3 linked regions of the Homo sapiens genome follow. The protein of the gene in region 3 purifies or fractionates together with the protein of the main gene of each other region. This does not show direct contact. Each region holds a gene or a part of one and is shown on either strand. Other genes may lie near its edges.

Region 1 (2,762 bases), on a different chromosome or scaffold from region 3:
TTTGTGCCTGGGAACCTTCCAGGTGCCTCTTCTGACCATAGCCAAGAGACTGGAGACACAGACCTCCTCCCAGCACTGAGGACAAACAGCCATGGGGCCAGTGGGGGTGCAGGGACACCCACACCACTAAGGGCTCAGGGCGGCGCCTTCAGAGCCTGAACCTTCCTCTCATGCTGCCATTTGAACACCACAACACCCTAATAGGAAACTGTTAACATTGCCACTGTTCAGGTGTGGAAACCGAGACAGACAGTGGAGATTCCCTGCCCTAGGTGACACAGGTAATAAGTGACAGATGTGGAAATTTAAAGGTACTATAACGTCTGTCTGCCTGACTCAGGCTTAAGGCTCCCATCACCTCCTCTTCTCAGGACAGAGTCAGGAGGCCTCAGCCTGAGCCCCAGCTCTAGTGCAGGTTCATGTGGGAATACTGAGCCTCACTAGTACAATGGCAGAGAGGACCAAATGGGACCAGGTGTGTAAGGGTGCCTGGCACAGTTGGGGGAGGCTGCTGTCACTTCTCCACCGCTGCTGCTGCAGTTACCTTTGATGTTTTAGTTTTGTTGTAGTTACACCATTGCTGGCTTTGGATCTGCACTGTGTCCACTCCAGGTGGAACCACGCACACAAGCCTCTCTGTCGGGCCTGTCCTGACTTCTCCTTGTCAGGGCTGGGATCTCCTTCAAATCTGGCGGAAGTGGTTCTCCAAGTCTGGTCCTCAAACGTCAGCAGCATCAGCGCCTAGAAGTGTTAGGAATACACATTCCCAGGCCCCACCACAGACCTCCTGCCTCAGAAACTCAGGGCGCTGAGGCTCTAGGGGCTGCTTTAACAAGACTTCCAGGTTATCGTGACGCACCTTGAAAGTCTGAGAGCTACTGCCCTACAGAAAGTTACTAGTGCCCTAAAGCTGGCGCTGGCACTGATGTTACTGCTGCTGTTGGAGTACAACTTCCCTATAGAAAACAACTGCCAGCACCTTAAGACCACTCACACCTTCAGAGTGGCCTTGAGAAAGATTTGGGGTCAAGGATCATGAGCGAGAACACCACTTAAGAGGATAGTGAACTAGTCTGCATGTGAGACGCTGAGATCCTATGTCAGGCTGTGATAGGAGGGAAACAGAAACCAAAGGAAAGAACAGCTTTAAGAAGCGCTTAAGAGGTACAAAGTAAAATGATGGTGCTAGAAAAGTAGCTTCTTAAAAAGAGCATTTTCCAGTCTCACCCTGGACTAACTGAATGAGAATCTCAGGAGTGTGAGGCCCAGGTATCCATGGTCTTAAAATGCCACCCACCAGGTGATTCCCAGTGTGCACCAGGGGTGAGAGTCACAGCCTTAGGCCATGCCACTCAAAGGGTGTCTTCAGACCAGCAGCACCCACAGCTCTGGGAGTGCATCAGAAAGACAGAGGCTTGGCACCACCCACACCTACTGAACCATAGTTTGCAGGTGATTTCTTGCACATTAAAGTGTGGGAAATGGAAAAGCTTAGAGTTCAGCTAGCTCGGTGACTCTCAGTCAACCTGCACCTGCTCCATGAACTCAGACTGCCTGGGATGGGCCCAGAAAAGCTCCTGAGGAGATTCTGATGTAAGGCAGGGCTGATAACCATGGATCTCATCTGACCCCATATCACTGGGGAGTTACTTAGGATCTTGCCTGGGGCCAGTCATCTCTTCCATAGACACTGAGAGTGTCCACGATGCTTGGGGCACTACAGGGTGGGAGGTGGAGGATCACGGGTGAGTCAGATAGGAAGCCTGCTCCTGGGGAGCTTACAGTGCTATAGGGCAGCGAGCCAAGGATGCCAATACCTGTGTGCAGGTACCACTGACGAGTGCAGAGCGCTGCAGCACCAGAGAGGAAGCTACCCTGTGCAGAGGGGGCTGAGGAGGGCTGCAGGGAGATGACAGGAAAGCCGGTGTTACAGGAGGAGTCCTCCCCACTCTTTGGGCATGAGGAGACCAGGAGGACATTCTACAGTGAGAAACCCAGGCAGAGGCCATGTGCTTATGGCATGGGAAAAGAATGACACCTTAGACTTATTCTCTACATTAGAATTGCCTACCACAGATACCCATATTATAGCTTCACATAGTGTGGTGGTTACTGTGTTTTCATATTGTCACATTTGCCATTTTCCAGCCACCCACCCATTCTTGACAGTCACTGGCCCAGCCTGGGGGCCCCTGTTCTTTATCAAACAAGTGCCTGAGCTCTTTGCAGAGGTGAGGGTCACCTGTCCAATCAGAGGCCAGGAGGGAACGTTCCCTTTTAAGACCCTACTCTAGGCAGGCCTGGCCCAAATGAGTTGCTAGGAGCCCACGCCCTAAGAACCCTCTGAGCACTGTTGTGGCTGGTCCTGCTGCTAGAAGTTGTTCCTCCAGGGCCAGGTGCAAGATTTGTGGCTTTTCAAAGGAGCCACTAAAGCTCCAGCTCAGCCTTGCACCGTGCTGGGCTCCTGGGGGCTTCCTGCCTCCAACCCTCCCAACTCTTCCATCACCGCTCCCTTAGCCTGGCCAGTGCAGGGATCTGTTCCACTCTAGGCACTGCTGAGGGAATGATGCCTCCAGTCAGAGGGTGCAAAAAAGAGAGTTAAGAAAAACAATGATTATAAAAAGTCCTTTTTATACGCCAGACATTTTCTTTGCTCAGGCTAAGTGCTACTTATTTGAGTAAGCATTTTAGTTCTCATAACTCCTCTCTCAAGTAGGTGCTGCTATTACTTTCATTTCACAGATGAGGACATTGAGGTTTGG
Region 2 (3,653 bases), on a different chromosome or scaffold from region 3:
CACAGTAGTGTTTTTATACAATATTTTACATCTGTGTGAGCCATTCATACTCAGGTTTGCATATTCTTAACAAGCTCAGTGACACTTAAAATATTTAGGCAACTGAACATCTGCAACTATCTTAAATAAACCCAGGTGACTTACAGTTATGTAGAAACATAAAGGTGTCATCTAGATTTTGCGTATCTTAAGTTTTAAAAAATATGTGGAGTCACTGGTCTTTTAGGAAGATTTTCAGACTACAAGACTGGTGCCCACAACTGGAAAACTGCTACTGTGTTGCTGCTTATCCTGATACTTTCCGTATTCAGATTTCAGGCAAGAATTCTAGCAGTGACCACCAGAATTTCCAGTACACCAGTAGAACCAGTTGTTTTCAGGCTGAACTCCTCTAAGAGTTTAAGATATGTATACAAACAGAGGGAAGATGATGCCTGAGGGACAAGGTGAAAGCTGGGCAGCCAGAGGTCTGGCCCCCCGACCCTTCATCAATTTAAGAGTTCACCTAAAATTGTATTTGAAAGCGGGGGAAGATGCCTCGGTACTTAAACAAGAAAAACAGACTGAGGATACTTTATAATATACCAATTTAGATTTAGGGAGAGTGTGAGGTGAGGAGCACTTCCCAGTTTACTTCACTCTAAACAGGTATTGCAGCAAGGCAGGGACACAGCATAAAGAGTGATTCTAGCACTCCACTGCCTACATAAGAACTCCACAGGCATACAGCCACTTGCTGTCGCTGTAAGTGGACAATCTGGCTTAAGATCAATGTGAAAAAGGGAAATAATTCACAAGTAGCCCTTAAGGGGTGCTTTAGGGGAAAACTCTCAAACTTTGTTTTTCCTCTGCCCTCACACCACACAGAAGTCGTGAAGTTGTCTTCTGTGACCAAACGTGTAGGGTTTTTTCCCAAGCAGCGGACACCAGCTGAGTATCCTCTAATTTGGTTCTGACACTGTCTACCTGGATACAGTGTCATATTCCACAAGATGGGGGCTCAGTCCCCAAAACTGCTCTCTCCTTCTTCAGACTCCAACTGTAAGTCTGGGCCTCCAGAACTTCTGACTGACACTTCAAGCTGGGGTTCCCAAGACCCCCTCCTTGAGTTCTATTAATTTGCTGGAGCATCTCACAAAACTTGGGGAAACACTTATGTTTACCGGTTTATTATAAAAAGTACAGATAAAGAAATGCGTAAGGGCACTGGGCTTCCATACCCTCTCTGGGGGCGCCACCCTCCAGGTGTGTTCAACTATCTGGAAGCTCTCTGAACCCAGTCCTCCTGCGTTTTTTTTTTTTTTTTTTAAAGACAGAATCTCACTCTGTCCCCCAGGCTGGAGTGCAGTGGTGCAATCTCGCCTCACTGTAACCTCTGCCTCCCGGGTTTGAGCAATTCTCCAGCCTCAGCCTCCTGAGTAGCTGGGATTATAGGCCCCCACCACTAAACCCAGCTAATTTTTTTTGTATTTTTAGTAGAGATGGGGTTTCACCACGATGGCCAGGCTGGTCTCAAACTCCTAAACTTGTGATTTGCTCGCCCCCAGCCTCCCAAAATGCTGGGATTACAGGCGTGAGCCACCGCGCCTGGCCCTCCTGGGTTTTTATAAAAGCTTCATATAGGAAACCTTACTTCCCTTCCCCGGGGTATAGGGCCAACACCCTCTCTCTAGAGAGGATCTCAAGACCTACAATCAGAAAGCTGGGTAAAGATCAGAATCTTGCCTTGGGACACGTGTAAGGAGAGCAGGAGAAGATCAGAGATTATTTTCTGAGACCTAACGTACCCTATATTATAACAAAACACGGTAATGGGGTTATGGGTGTTATGAGCCAGGAACCGTGGTGGATGAAAACCAGTATGTATCACAACACCACAAGAGGACACGCAGATATGTCCATTTATAAATTATTTCAGAAGCATGCCAAGTCTTTGTATCTAAATGACATAAAACGTTATTTTGATCCCCTAATAATACATTTTTATGCTCTACCGAAACTACTCAGAAATAATTTCCCACAATAGGAAATATATTTCTTTCACTATTCTTGAGTAACAGAATATTTAAACTATGTTCTCAAGTTTTTCGAAGCCATTTCCCAGGATCAAGGCTTCACCGAAGGTAGCTTTTCAAAAGCGTTCTTGTACCAGGTTTTGCCACTTGATGGCTCAAGTTTTCACACTTTCCTCAGAGAAGTTTTATTTGCATTTTTTTTGGTTGCTGTTTTTTATTTTTATTTTTTTTTGAGACTGAGTCTCACTCTGTCACCCAGGCTAGAGTGCAGTGGTGCCATCTTGGCTCACTGCAACCTCCGCCTCCCAGGTTCAAGTGATTCTCCTGCCTCAGCCTCCCAAGTAGCTGAGACTACATGTGAGTGCCACCACACCAGGATAACTTTTGTATTTTTAGTAGAGATGGGGTTTCACCATGTTGGCCAGGCTGGTCTTGAACTCCTGACCTCAGGTGACCCGCCAGCCTTGGCTTCCCAAAGTGCTGGGATTACAGATGTAAGCCACCGCACCCATCCTCTTGTTGCTGTTTTTAAGTGTAACTGATCTTGAAGCAGGATTCTGAGCACTTCTTGCATTTGGATACTCCCAGTCTCAGCTCACTTCTTTCACAAGAGCAAGGATTCTGTCAACCTAAATTTATAATTCGAATTGAAAATTTTAATAAATTCCACCATATTTCCACTAGACAGGAGTTTCTCAAAAGAGACCACTCAAAAGGTTCTCAGGTCATGAGCTTCCACCAGAAGAGCAGAGCTTTACAGATTGTCAACTGAAGCACAGGTTTCCACAAGCTCTTAAATGGAGCATGAAGGATTCAGAAAAAGAAAGGGTAAAAGCCAGCAATTATCTAAGAAAAAAGTAACTGCTCAGGACAGACTGACTGTCTTAAACTAAAAAACTGGGAAAAGAAAAGGGAACATAAACAACGTTTCTTTTTAGATTCTTATACAGTTAACTTCCCAGCAGAAATATGCTACTCCAATTAACTGCCACCTGCACAATTTACACCCATACTCTCCCTGCTGGGGGTGTGGCTAGCTTCTTTACATGTAGACGCCATTGGAATCCTTGGGTTTAAGCTCACATGGAAGCATAAAACCTCACTGTGAAATGGGAAGCATTCATGTGAGCCCCCATTAGCCAAACAGCTTACAAGAGCACCATAAAGGCCTGTGTTGCAAGCACAGGCCTGGGAACCAGCCCAGACATACTCTGTGGCTCATTTCATCATTGTATGTGGTAGTGCCTTGATTTCCCTACTTGTGAAACAAGGATAGTCCTGAGAAAATTGGGAATAGTTTATAAAGTGCTTGGAAAATAAAACAGACAAGCCACCAATACTATAATACCATAAAGGCCAGCAAGGGGGCCTTTACACTTAAGCAGCACATCCTTATTAAAGTCATCACAGTCACATGAGAAGTGACATATAAACACAACCCACAGCTAAGTGACTCAATTACAAATCTATACCCTTACTGAAGAGGGTATTAGGATATGCAGATTCATTTTTAATTCTAACAGCTGGTCAAATAATGCATGACTCTTTTAGATTACGTGTATGCTTTTAAATTAAATCTTTAACTTAAATCTAAAACTGTGGCATATATTCAGAGCAGGCTTCCCTTTGTAAACTCCA
Region 3 (3,653 bases):
AGAAGGTGAAGCAGCAGACGGCTGTGTCGGAGACCTTCTCTGAGTCATCCTCCGACAGCACCCAGTTCAATCAGCCGGTTGGTGGCGGGGGGTTTCGGCGTGCCAACAGCGAGGCCTCAAGTAGTGAGGGCCAGTCGAGCCTGTCCAGCCTGGAGAAACTGATGATGGACTGGAACGAGGCATCATCTGCCCCCGGCTACAACTGGAACCAGAGTGTCCTCTTTCAGAGTAGCTCCAAGCCGGGCCGTGGACGGCGGAAGAAGGTGGACCTGTTCGAGGCCTCACATCTGGGCTTCCCGACATCCGCCTCTGCCGCTGCCTCAGGCTACCCATCCAAACGGAGCACTGGGCCCCGGCAGCCGCGAGGTGGACGGGGCGGTGGGGCCTGCTCAGCCAAGAAGGAGCGGGGTGGCGCAGCGGCCAAAGCCAAGTTCATCCCCAAGCCACAGCCAGTCAACCCACTGTTCCAGGACAGTCCTGACCTCGGCCTGGACTACTATAGCGGGGACAGCAGCATGTCACCACTGCCCTCACAGTCGAGGGCCTTCGGCGTGGGAGAGCGAGACCCCTGTGACTTCATAGGACCCTACTCCATGAACCCGTCCACGCCTTCCGATGGCACCTTTGGCCAAGGCTTCCACTGCGACTCGCCCAGCCTGGGTGCTCCCGAGCTTGATGGCAAGCATTTCCCACCGCTGGCCCACCCACCCACGGTGTTTGACGCCGGCCTGCAGAAGGCATACTCGCCCACCTGCTCGCCTACACTGGGCTTCAAGGAAGAGCTGCGGCCACCGCCCACAAAGCTGGCTGCCTGCGAGCCCCTCAAGCATGGACTCCAGGGGGCCAGCCTGGGCCACGCAGCTGCAGCCCAGGCCCACCTGAGCTGCCGGGACCTGCCGCTGGGCCAGCCCCACTACGATTCCCCCAGCTGCAAGGGCACAGCCTATTGGTACCCTCCAGGCTCAGCTGCCCGCAGCCCGCCCTATGAAGGCAAGGTGGGTACAGGGCTGCTGGCTGACTTCCTGGGCAGGACGGAGGCCGCGTGCCTCAGTGCCCCTCACCTGGCTAGCCCACCAGCCACGCCCAAGGCCGACAAGGAGCCACTGGAAATGGCCCGGCCCCCTGGCCCACCCCGTGGCCCTGCTGCAGCCGCTGCTGGCTATGGCTGCCCACTCCTTAGTGACTTGACCCTGTCCCCCGTGCCGAGGGACTCGCTGCTGCCCCTGCAGGACACCGCCTACAGGTACCCAGGCTTTATGCCCCAGGCGCATCCTGGCCTGGGTGGGGGCCCCAAGAGCGGCTTCCTGGGGCCCATGGCGGAACCTCACCCCGAGGACACATTCACCGTCACATCCCTGTAGTGCCAACTGAAGTGCCGACTGGACCGCGAGGTTTTGTTCCTGGGTGAGTCTGGGGATGTGGGCGCAGTGGGCAGAGGCCTGGGGGTGGGAAGAGGACATCAGAGCTTAGGCAAGGACAGAGGTATGGAGTGCAGGAAGCAAATGCAGGATTTAAGGGCAAGGCTGGGGACTGAGAGCAGGGTGTAGGGATTCAGGATTCGCTGTTGCGGACAGTCTCAGGAGGAGATGGGGTGCTTGGGCTGGGAACTCAGCAGGGGGCTTGAACGTTCGGGGGGGTCTTGTGAATTGAAATGGCCAGAGGACTACACACTGGATGGGGCCCTGTAGTTTGGTTTATTAAGCTTTCAATTATTTGTTCATGCTATGTCTTGGGCAGGAAGTGAGTATTTCCCAGGAAATACGCTGATAAGGGTGGGCATTTGTATCGCCCTGTGTGAGACAGGTGAAGGGAGAAGCAGGTTGGACGGTCGTCTACCCAGGGCCTATCCAGAGGACCAGCCCTGCTGGCACCCCCATTTCCCTGGGAGCTTCACTGATTCTAAGAGGCAGCCTGGTGAGGGCCAGGCCAAGAGTGGCCAGTGTGGCGTGGTCACACACTCTGCAAGGGCTTCACAGGATGGTCCAAAATGTCCTCTCTTGGCCTCCCAAGGTACCCCCAAAGGCTATTTTCCAACATCTTTGGTCTGAGATAGGCTAGGTGTGGCCAGGAGCATGTGGGGTAGGGACCCAGAAGTGGAGAAGGGGTGCTGGGGTCCCACTGTCCCTGCAAACCTGCAGCCAGTGAGGCTATCTTCAGGCAAAGGTATTTTGACCCTAGAAAAGCCAGTCCCTTTCCTGAAGCCAAAGACTTTTCTGAGAGTTCAGTTAAAGAGTGTTAAATGTTTTGATACTGTTTTTATCAGGTACTGTGACCTCATTAGTTGGAGTCAGTTTTAGTATTCTCAAGATTTGGTGTTTTAAAAAAGGAAAATAAAAGACAGAAAATGCCCCCAAAATGATCAAAGGGAACAAGGTTGAAGGAGCCATCTTCTTGAAGAACAGCCTGCTCCCGAAATACAGCCGCCACTGGCCCCACTTTTGGACAACAGATCTGTCACAAAATTGGCCCAGATGTGGTGGTTGGTGATGGGGCAGACTGGGGGCATGCCTGCGTCCCTCACCCTTCACCTCTGCTGCCACTGAAGCTTCCTGGGAGTTTCTCTTCCTGGAGGAGTAGCTGGGCTCCTGGAAAGTCCCATCCGTGCTCTGGGAGGCCATTCAAGGCCAGGGTGACTCAGGGTCCTGAAGTCATGTCAGTGGAAACTTGTTGCCCCCTCTCTGCCAGACCCCAGCTCCCCTGGTGCCTGAAGGTGACAAAGGGCAGCATGCAGGAGTCCGGAGGCCTCCGGGAGGACCATTCCCAGATTGGCCACCAACTTCCCACATGCCCTTGACCAAGCTTTTGCCCCTCTCTGGGCCTCAGTTTCCCCATCTTTTCAAGGAAATTTACTTTGATAATCCCTTAGGCTCTCGCAGCTCTGCATGGCAGAGACAATGAAGCAAACTTTTTTTTTTTTTTTGGCAGCATCTTTTCCTTCCTGATGAAGCCAGGCCAAGATTAAAATGGCCTTCCATTCCCCATGCGTCTCATTGCAACCAGCAGAGCCTCAGATCTGAAGCAGGCCAGGGAGAAACTGCTTAGGGTTTAAAATGTCAAACTCTTGATCCTTCTCACTGGCGGGGAGATGTCTCATGGATAATCCAGAAATGTGAAATAATCCAAAAACCGTTCCTCCCAGGCTCTGGGTGGGAAAATGGACGGGTGTGGGGGCTGGGTGTTTGGGCAGGTCACAGCTCAGTGAAGTACATAATGGAACCACCCAGTGAGGCCTGAACGCAGGAGGAACTGGGATGCCATCCAGCCCCACATTCTGGCCCTGCTCCCCACTCAGGGCTGTGAGTTAACTGCGCTGTCCTCAAACCAATGCATTCCATTGTTCTAGAGACATCTGTCCAGCACCCACTAGAAGCCAGGCATTGGGGGCACCACAGTGAACACCACAAATGAGGTACTGGTCCTCAGGGGGCTTCCCATTTAGAGGGAAAGACAGCAAACAGTGGCATTAAGCATGTGTTGATTCCAGCTGTGGGAAGCACTGTACAAGAGAAAAAAGCTAGAAGCTTGTGAGCGCACACAGCATGCTGACCGGACCTTGAAGCTGAGGCCTGAGGAATGATGGGGCTGAACAGCTGGCGGGGAGGGGGAAGAACATTCTGGGCAGAGGGAACAGCAGTGTGGAAAGCCTGGAGGCA

Evidence for each region.
Region 1: the proteins of AHDC1 (region 3) and IL37 purify together in Homo sapiens (affinity purification with mass spectrometry; one large-scale study listed by BioGRID and IntAct). This does not show direct contact.
Region 2: the proteins of AHDC1 (region 3) and ADNP purify together in Homo sapiens (affinity purification with mass spectrometry, with the first as the bait; one large-scale study listed by BioGRID). This does not show direct contact.

What each region holds. Positions count from the first base shown.
Region 1 is NC_000002.12:112,914,096-112,916,857, forward strand, and holds part of IL37 (interleukin-37), read left to right. Parts: intron 1-1,097; coding exon of another isoform or gene 1,098-1,164; intron 1,165-2,762. UniProt on the Homo sapiens protein: Immune regulatory cytokine that acts as a suppressor of innate inflammatory and immune responses involved in curbing excessive inflammation.
Region 2 is NC_000020.11:50,921,289-50,924,941, forward strand, and holds part of ADNP (activity-dependent neuroprotector homeobox protein), read right to left. Parts: intron 1-3,653.
Region 3 is NC_000001.11:27,545,012-27,548,664, reverse strand, and holds part of AHDC1 (transcription factor Gibbin), read left to right. Parts: coding exon 1-1,361; 3' UTR 1,362-1,404; intron 1,405-3,343; exon of another isoform or gene 3,344-3,409; intron 3,410-3,653. UniProt on the Homo sapiens protein: Transcription factor required for the proper patterning of the epidermis, which plays a key role in early epithelial morphogenesis. Directly binds promoter and enhancer regions and acts by maintaining local enhancer-promoter chromatin architecture.